Homo sapiens: one gene and its partner. The protein of the gene in region 1 purifies or fractionates together with the protein of each later gene. This does not show direct contact. Each region holds a gene or a part of one and is shown on either strand. Other genes may lie near its edges.

The links. The genes of interacting proteins can lie anywhere in the genome.
Region 2: the proteins of CBR3 (region 1) and SGK1 purify together in Homo sapiens (co-immunoprecipitation; one large-scale study listed by IntAct). This does not show direct contact.

The regions. Positions count from the first base shown.
Region 1 is NC_000021.9:36,136,961-36,142,483, forward strand, and holds part of CBR3 (carbonyl reductase [NADPH] 3), read left to right. Parts: intron 1-864; coding exon 865-972; intron 973-4,435; exon of another isoform or gene 4,436-4,963; coding exon of another isoform or gene 4,964-5,004; exon of another isoform or gene 5,005-5,184; intron 5,185-5,523. UniProt on the Homo sapiens protein: Catalyzes the NADPH-dependent reduction of carbonyl compounds to their corresponding alcohols. Has low NADPH-dependent oxidoreductase activity.
Region 2 is NC_000006.12:134,311,613-134,315,112, forward strand, and holds part of SGK1 (serine/threonine-protein kinase Sgk1), read right to left. Parts: intron 1-3,500. UniProt on the Homo sapiens protein: Serine/threonine-protein kinase which is involved in the regulation of a wide variety of ion channels, membrane transporters, cellular enzymes, transcription factors, neuronal excitability, cell growth, proliferation, survival, migration and apoptosis.

The DNA.
Region 1 (5,523 bases):
GAGGTTGCAGGAAGAGGAGATTGCACCCCTGCACTGCAGCCTGGGCGACAGAGCGAGACTCTGCCTCAAAAAAAAAAAAAAAAAAAAAAAAAAATCTGCATTTCAACAGAATCCCCAGCTCCCTCCTACGCACCTTTAAGTTTAAGAAGTGGTAGTCAAAGCCAAGTGTTCTCAAGGTGTGGCTGGAGACCAGTAGCTGTCACATCATCTGGGAACCTAGAAATGCAAACTCAGGCCAGGTGCGATGGCTCACGCCTGTAATCCCAGCACTTTGGGAAGCCGAGGCGGGTGGATCACATGAGGTCAGGAGTTGGGGACCAGCCTGGCCAACATGGCGAAACCCTGTCTCTGCAAAAAGTAAAAAAATTAGCTGGGTGTGGTGGCATGTGCCTGTAATCCCAGCTACTCCAGAGGCTGAGGCAGGAGAATCACTTGAACCCAGGAGGTGGAGGTTGCAGTGAGCCGAGATCGCGCCACTGCACTCCAGCCTGGGTGACAGAGGAAGAAAAGAAAGAGAAAGAAAGAAAGAAAAGAAAAGAAAGAAAGGAAGGAAGGAAGGAAGGAAGGAAGGAAGGAAGGAAGGAAGGAAGGAAGGAAGGAAAGAAAATGCAAATTCTGGAGCCCTTACTCCAGCCCTTTGCAATCAGAAACTCCAATGGTGAGGCCCAGGAAGCTGTGTTTTAACAGGCTCTACAAGTGATTCGGATGCAGACTAAAGTTTGAGAATCACCGACCTCGTTCTTAAAAATTGTTTTAAAATTAACTTGTTTTTCCTTTAGTTGTTAGGAGTTAGGATCCACTTTGTCATGTGAGTTTCAGGGGGAAAAATATGACTTTCTTTTTGTTTCTTTCTCTTTTTGAAAGGTGATGATCCAATGCCCTTTGACATTAAAGCTGAGATGACACTGAAGACAAATTTTTTTGCCACTAGAAACATGTGCAACGAGTTACTGCCGATAATGAAACCTCATGGTAAGCCCAACGTGTGGACAGTCGGGTTGCATCCCTCAGTAAGAAGTGGGCTACAGGCTTCCCGGAGCAGGGCTACCCTGCAGAAATCACTCAGGGGTGCTATTTCTCTGAAGGGGGAAAAATAGAAAATTGCTTCATTTTCCCACAGTGTTTGGCTTCTCACTCCAACATTTTAGTTTAGTTTAGTTTAGTTTAGTTTAGTTTTGTTTTGTTTGGCAGTGGGGTGGGTGGTGGGAAGAAATTTTGCTCTTGTTGTGCAGGCTGTAGTGCAATGGTGTGATCTTGGCTCACTGCAACCTCCACCTCCCGGGGTCAAGCAATTCTCCTGCCTCAGCCTCCCGAGTAGCTGAGATTACAGGCACCCACTACCACACCCGGCTAATTTTTTATATTTTTAGTAGAGACGTGGTTTCACCATGTTGGCCAGGCTAGTCCTGAACTCCTGACCTTCAGGTGATCCACCCACCTTGGCCTCCCAAAGTGTTAGAATTACAGGCGTGAGCCACTATGCCCAGCCTTAGCTTTAAGTTCCAAAGATAAGTGTGACATATCACAATGCTTTTGGGATCCATGTCATGAACTCAATCCTAGAATGATAGAATGCTGTGAGTCCCCAAAGGCCGCTTGCCTCTGGTCAATCTCATGAGTCCTCCAGCCCTCCAAGGTGATGGGCCCACATCTAGCTCATCTCTGGACCTTGGTATCTGTTTTAGCATTACAACTTTTCCTATATTCCTTTCTTCTTATACCATACTTTCTCAAGTTGATTCAGAAAACCCAAAAGAAATTTTCTTTTCTTTTTTTTTCTTTTCTTTTTTTTTTTTTTTTTTTGAGACAGAGTCTCGCTCTGTCATCCAGGCTAGAGTACAGTGGCACAATTTCGGCTCACTGTAGTCTCCGCCTCCCAGGTTCAAGCGATTCTCCTGTCTCAGCCTCTGGAGTAGCTGGGATTACAGGTGTGCACCACCACGCCCAGCTCATTTTGTATTTTTAGTACAGATGGGATTTCACTATGTTGGCCAGGCTGGTCTCAAACTCCTGACCTCAAGTGATCCACCCACCTCTGCCTCCCAAAATGCTGGGATTACAGGTGTGAGCCACCATGCCCGAACGAGAAATTTTCTTTATTAGGAAATGTCTTGCCTATACCTGCAGGTATTCAATAAATGTTACTATTATACTTTTCCTACAAACATTGGAGTGCCTGCCATATTCCAGGCATTATGCTGGGATCTGGGTGTGCAATGGTGAGCATTATAGACAGGGACCATCTCATTGGTGGAGCTGAAACTCTAGTGGGGGAGATATCCATTAGCAAAGAATCTGAAGTGTGAAATGACAGCTGTGCTGGGGTACAGGGAAGCTTGCTTCCTTGAGGATTTTATTCCCCAAGAAGTTAACTGTGGATTCTTAGAACTGTGGTTTTTATTAAAAATGTGCTTGCTTTTTCTTTTTTTTTTTTTTTTTTTGACAGAGTTTCGCTCTGTTGCCCAGGCTGGAGTGCAGTGACAGGATCTCAGCTCACTGCAACCTCCACCTTCTGGGTTCAAGGGATTCTCCTGCCTTAGCCTCCTGAGTAGCTGGGACTACAGGCGTGTGCCGCTACGCCCGGCTAATTTTTATATTTTTAGTAGAGACAGGGCTTTGCCATGTTGGCCAGGCTGGTCTCGAACTCCTGACCTCAAGTGATTCATCTGCCTCAGCCTCCCAAAGTGCTGGGATTACAGGTGTGAGCTACTGCACCTGGCCAGAAGTGTGCTTTTCTTAATTTAACATTTCGAATATGGATTATTGGCCGGGTGTGGTGGCTCATGCCTGTAATCTCAGCACTTTGGGAGGTTGAGGCAGGAGGATCACTTGAGCCCACGAGTTTAAGACCAGGCTGAAAAATATGGCAAGACCCTCATCACTTTAAACAAACAAACAAAATTATCTCTGGATGCAAAACCTTTTTTTTTTTTTTTTTTTTTTCTGAGACAGAGTCTCCCTCCGTCGCCCAGACTGGAGTGCAGTGGCATGAGCTCAGCTCGCTGCAACCTCCGCCTCTCAGGTACGAGAGATTCTCCGCCCCAGCCTCTCAAGTAGCTGGGTTTACAGGCGAGCACCACCACGCCCAGCTAATTTTTTTGTATTTCTAGTAGAGACAGGGTTTCACCATGTTGGCCAGCTTGATCTCGAATTCCTGACCTCAGGTGATCCACCCGCCTTGGCCTCCCAAAATGCTAGGATTACAGGCTTGAGCCACCGCACTCAGACGCAAAAAGTTCTTAACCTAAGAAGGTGAATGGTGAGAGTTGCACTTGTACTCTGTCAGTTTCTGAGTGGGATGAGATCATAGAAAGCCTGCAGGGAGAACTGCAGGTGCTTTGAAGGGGATGGAGTTTCTAAATGCAAATCTGAGCCAATATAAACGCACATTTTAAAAACTCTCCTTTTTACACAGAAGGTAACATTTCATACAATGTTTGCCACTTTGCTTTTTTTACTCCTTATGTCTGGGGCTCTCTCCAGGTTTGGTCAGAAAGCTTTTATCTTTTTTGTGGCTATATAGGGACGCAGCCATTATAGGGATGTCTTTTACCCAGTGTTGGGAAGTTTTCTCCCGATAAATTTTTGAATGGGAACTTGAGAGCTGCAAGGTATTAAGACACCTTTAAAACTCCATCCCCTTCCAGAGCACCTGCAGTTCTCCCTGCAGGCTTTCTCTGATCCCATCCCACTAAAAAACTGAGCAAGTACAAGAGTACAAGTGCAATTCTCACCATTCACCTTTTTAGGTTAAGAAGTTTTTGTGGCCGGGCACAGTGGCTCACACCTGTAATCCTAGCACTTTGGGAGGCCAAGGCAGGCAGACCACGAGGTCAGGAGATCGAGACCATCCTGGCTAACACGGTGAAACCCCATCTCTACTAAAAATACAAAAAAATTAGCCAGGCATGGTGGTGGGCACCTGTAGTCCCAGCTAGTCGGGAGGCTGAGGCAGGAGAATGGCATGAACCCGGGAGGCGGAACTTGCAGTGAGCCCAGATCGCGCCACTGCACTCCAGCCTGGGCGACAGAGCCACACTCCATCTCAAAAAAAAAAAAAAAAAAAGAAAGAAAGAAAGAAAAGAAAATATCATAAGAATGGACTTAATCCTGAGCAACATATGGAGACCCCAGCTCTACACAAAAAATGAAAATTAAAAATTAGCTGGGCATAGTGGCATGTTCCAGCTTCTCGAGAGACTGAGGTGGGAGGATCGCTTGGGCCCAGGAGGTTGAGGCTGCAGTGAGCTATGATTGTGCCACTGTACTCTAGCCTGGGCGACAGAGCAAGTCCTTGTCTCAAAAAAAAAAAAAAATGCATTTAACGCATCTGACCTACCAAACACCATAGGTCAGCCTCGTCTAGCTTCAAGGTGCTTTGAACGCTTACATTAGCCTATAGTCTGGCAAAGTCATCTAACACAAAGCCTATTTTATCATAAAATGTTGAGTATCTTATGTAATTTATTGAATCTGTACTGAAAGTGAAATGCAGAATGGTTGTATGGGGCCTCCAAGTACAGATTCTGCAGAATGCATATCGCTTCCTCATCCATCAGTGAAGTCAGTAAGTCCTAAGTGGAACCATCAGAGGGCAGGGACCATCTATCTGTATTTGACTTGCTTATTTGTTCAAGGTTCTGAGTCAATAGGACAAGCAACTACTAAGCCACTAGAGGGCGCAACTTGCCTACTCTTTCTAGAGTAAGGCAGCAGGTGTTTCGGGACCGGTGGGGCCACCTGGACCTCAGTGGAGGGTGGTGTGGGTGCAGCCCTTCCCAGGGCTGATGACGCATCTGGCTGACGAGGCTGACTGTCAGCCTCTGGCCTCTCTCCCAGAGGTGTGCCCTCAGATCAAAGAGGACACCTCCTCCCCTTAAGAGGATTTATTTCCTCGAAGGCACAGCTTCTATGATCTGTGTTTTTCTTTCTTCCTTTCCCATTCACATTTAATTCCTTGTAGCCGCCAAGTTTCTGAGAACAAAGCTGTTTAGAAAGCAATGAAGAACACAACATCACTGATGTAGTATTCCTGGCCAAAATATTGATGTGACTCTCCTCATGAGAACAGACCAATTCACTTTGAGAGAAATACTACAAAATAATGGTCTACAGTCTTCAAAAAAGTCATTGCCAACTACCTTACATTAAAATATATGAAAGAGATGTGACAATTAAATGCAATCCATGGGCCAGGTGCGGTGACTCACGCCTGTAATCCCAGCACTTTGGGAGACCAAGGCGGGCGGATCATGAGGTCAGGAGATTGAGACTATCCTCGCTAACACGGTGAAACCCCGTCTCTACTAAAAATACAAGAAATTAGCCAGGCATGGTGGCAGGCGCCTGTAGTCCCAGCTACTTGGGAGACTGAGGCAGGAGAATGGCATGAACCCGGGAGGTGGAGCTTGCAGTGAGCCGAGATCACGCCACTGCACTCCAGCCTAGGTGACAGAGCGAGACTCCATCTCAAAAAAAAAAAAAAAAACGCAATCCATGATCCTACTTTGGACCCTGGATTAA
Region 2 (3,500 bases), on another chromosome or scaffold:
TGCACTCCAGCCTGGGTGACAGAGTGAGACTGTATGAAAAAACAACAAAACAAAAAACCTTCCTGCCCTGTGGGAGCTACAGAGGAATAAGCAGTACTAATGTAACAATGCAGTGTCACTGGGACCATGTGCTGTGTTGTGGGCGCAGGCTCAAGAGGAACTCAAACAGCTTAGATTTTAGCCATTCCGAAGAAAGCACAGTAGCAGCCACTGGAGTCTCCGCCGTGTTCCGGGAAGCATGATCAAACATATCTTGAAAAAATCTAAAGCAGACTTCAGATTTGTTAGAAAGCATTCCTACCGCTCTCAGTAGTGACTTGGAGAATCTACCTCTTCATAGCTAAGGCTATAACAACATCAACAACAACAACAACAAAACACCTCTTTGGGTTGTCTTCACAAGTAGTTTCCAATTCAGTAGAGCCAATCCTGCAACAGTATTGGCATCATCGCAGTGCACTCCAGTGACGCAAATGGAAAGACTGCTGCTGGTAAACGAACTACCTGAATTTGAATTCTGGCTATACCTCTTCCTAGGTCTACGATTTTTAACAAATCAGTTAACCTCTGACCCTCAGTTTCCTTGGCTATAAAATGGGCATAATGAAGGATTGTGAGAGTTACCTGAGTAAAGTGCTTTGAACGGTGCTGCTCAATAATGTTATCCCTCTGAGAAGACATCGAAAGTTTCCCATAAGAAAAGGGCCTTTGTTATTCCAATTTGGATACTTTAAGCAGGCAAAATAGAACAGTAAAAGGAAAACAAATGTAAAGGGATGCTGTTTATGAAATAGTTGTGAAGAATAAGCACTTCAGAGGAGCTTAATTTAACTTCTCAGCTCTGCTAGAGTAAACATTGTAACCAGACTAAAAACCTTTCCTTTGTTCCTGCAGTTATTAGAGAAAGGAGGAGGCCAGAGAAGTCATATCATTTCACTTCTCTGAACTTCACCCTGGATTATTTAATGTTGACAGGCATTCGGGATGTATAGAGATTAAGGACACAGACTCTGGAGCCTGGTGCTGGGATCCAAACCCTGATCCTGTCACTAACTAGCTATGTGACTTGGGGCAAGTTCTTCAACTTCTGTACACCTCAGTTTCTTCATCTATGAAATCACAATAATAAAAGTACCTATCTCAGGTATTTTTATATATGATAATTTTTTTTTTTCCTTGAGATGGAGTCTCACTCTGTCATCCCAGCTGGAGTGCAGTGGCGAGACCTCAGCTCACTACAACCTCCGCCTCCCTGGTTCAAGCGATTCTCCTGCTTCAGCCTCCTGAGTAGCTGGGATTATGGGCGCCTGCCATCACACCTGGTTCATTTTTGTATTTTTAGTAGAGACAGGGTTTCACCACGTTGGCCAGGTTGGTCTCGAACTCCTGACTTTAAGTGATCTGCCTGCCTAACCCTCCCAAAGTTCTGGCATTACAGGCGTGAGCCAACGCGCCCAGCCTGTGTATGATGATTTAAATGTGTAATGTACTTAAAGCTCTTAGAACCATGCCCAGCAATATTAATGCCATTTAAGTCATAGTTATTAGAAAAGCTACTGTTATTAAAGAATAATGCAAGGAATTGTTCAAATGCATATAATCATAAAATAGAGAGTCAAGGCTGGGCACAGTGGGTGGCTCACACCTGAAATGTCAACACTTTGGGACGCTCCCTTGAGCCCAGAAACTCGAGACCAGCCAGGGCAACATAGTGAGACCTTGTCTCTGCAAACAACCAACCAACCAAACAAACAAACAAAAATAACAACAACAAAAATACAGAGTCAAAATGGAACGGTCTTGTCAAAGTTGGTAGTCACTATGCCGTTAGTTTCATGAAGATAAAACATGGTTATTTTGTTCCTACTCTATTTGTTGAAAAATGAATGAATGAGGCATGAAAGACTTGACTAGTTTGATGTTGAGAACTTAGCAAAAAGGAAAGCACACGAGATCTGGAAGTGAAAACCCAAAACATGAGTCCTGGCTTAACCTCATTCTAATTTGACAGGTGATTTACCACAGGTACTCAGTTTCCTCATCTTTGAAAGAGGGAAGTCAGAGGGAGAATTTCTGAGGTTCATTCCACATCCAAAATTCTGCAGCGTTAGATAGCCTTTCGAATTTTACAAAAGGTAATGTAATCATGGCTATGGAAGTTTTTTTCACATACCTTGTGTATTTCCAAAAAGGATTATCGAGTTGGAGACAATGTCATTTGTTTGCGTTTTCTAAATCATTATGTAAGAATCTGAGCCACAAACAGAACAAATCTTTAAATCCATGAAAATGGATTACCTTTAGCTGGACTGACAACTTTTAAAACTCTTGGATTGGGAGAATAAAACTGATAAGGACATTTTTCCATTCATCTTAAATGAATTTTTGGAGACTCTTAAGAGTAAAATATAATCCATATACATCTAATGCTAATTTATCATGAACACTTAAAGAATGAAAGTAGAACTCTTATCCAGTTTAGTTCAGCAATTCTCTGCTAAATGAAATTAAGCTGCTTTAGTTGAGCTTTTAAAATATGAGGATGAGAAGCATAAATCCAAAGGATTTTGTAGAACTAGCATCCGGACTGTCTTTCTTCAGATTATGTTCCTAGAATCTGGGTTCCCCAGGGCAGCCTCTCATTACTGTCAGTATTAAGGACTAGAAAGGAGCTGGAAGAGGCTTGGCCGCTTTTATAGGTTTTTGGTAGTGGCATAAAGATTTCACTTGGTTGGGGGAGGGGGGTAGGGGGACAGAAGAGTCTGTTGTGGAAACTAAAAGAAAAGAAGGGGAGAGTGGTCTGAAATCAAAAAGTCTGGATTACGTATACAAGCTTTGAGTTGAACAAGGTTTAAATTTTAGCTCTGCTACTTTTTAGTTATGTGACCTTGGGCGAATGGTTTAATCTCTCTAAGTCACACTTTGCACATTTAATAATGTTTCTTACCTTATAGGGTTACTGTGAATATTAAATGAGCTAATACATGTAAAGCATTCCTACCCAGAACATAGTCAGCTCTAATAAATAGTGACTGACAGACAGCTACAAGGGCAGATAACCTATATTCTCCTTCAGTTTCTTATGCTCCCTCTGGAATGTCTCAGAAGCATAGGAAGCACTGTTTAAGCCTCCTGCAATCAAAAATCATTCTTTTTAATTAGCCCTAATAGACCCTATGGTTTTTTTTTTTTTTTTTCCAAAATCTATTCATAGTTTAATGTGGGCTATGGACAAAGGTTCACTTTGTAAGACTGTCTAGCTAGGTTAAAAATAAAATATGCAGAAATGTGTGGAACTTCAACAATAGAATATAAGAAAATGAATTATTCTGAACTGCAAACAAAGGCATTGTAGTATATGAATGTGTATGTGAAGTAAAAGTTTGGAAAGTATAAACATCAGTATGGTAACAGTTACTACATCTGGGAAAGGGAGAAAGATTGGAGAGGAGGTGGGATATACCTTATTATTGTTTTAATGTTTTATAGATGTATTTACA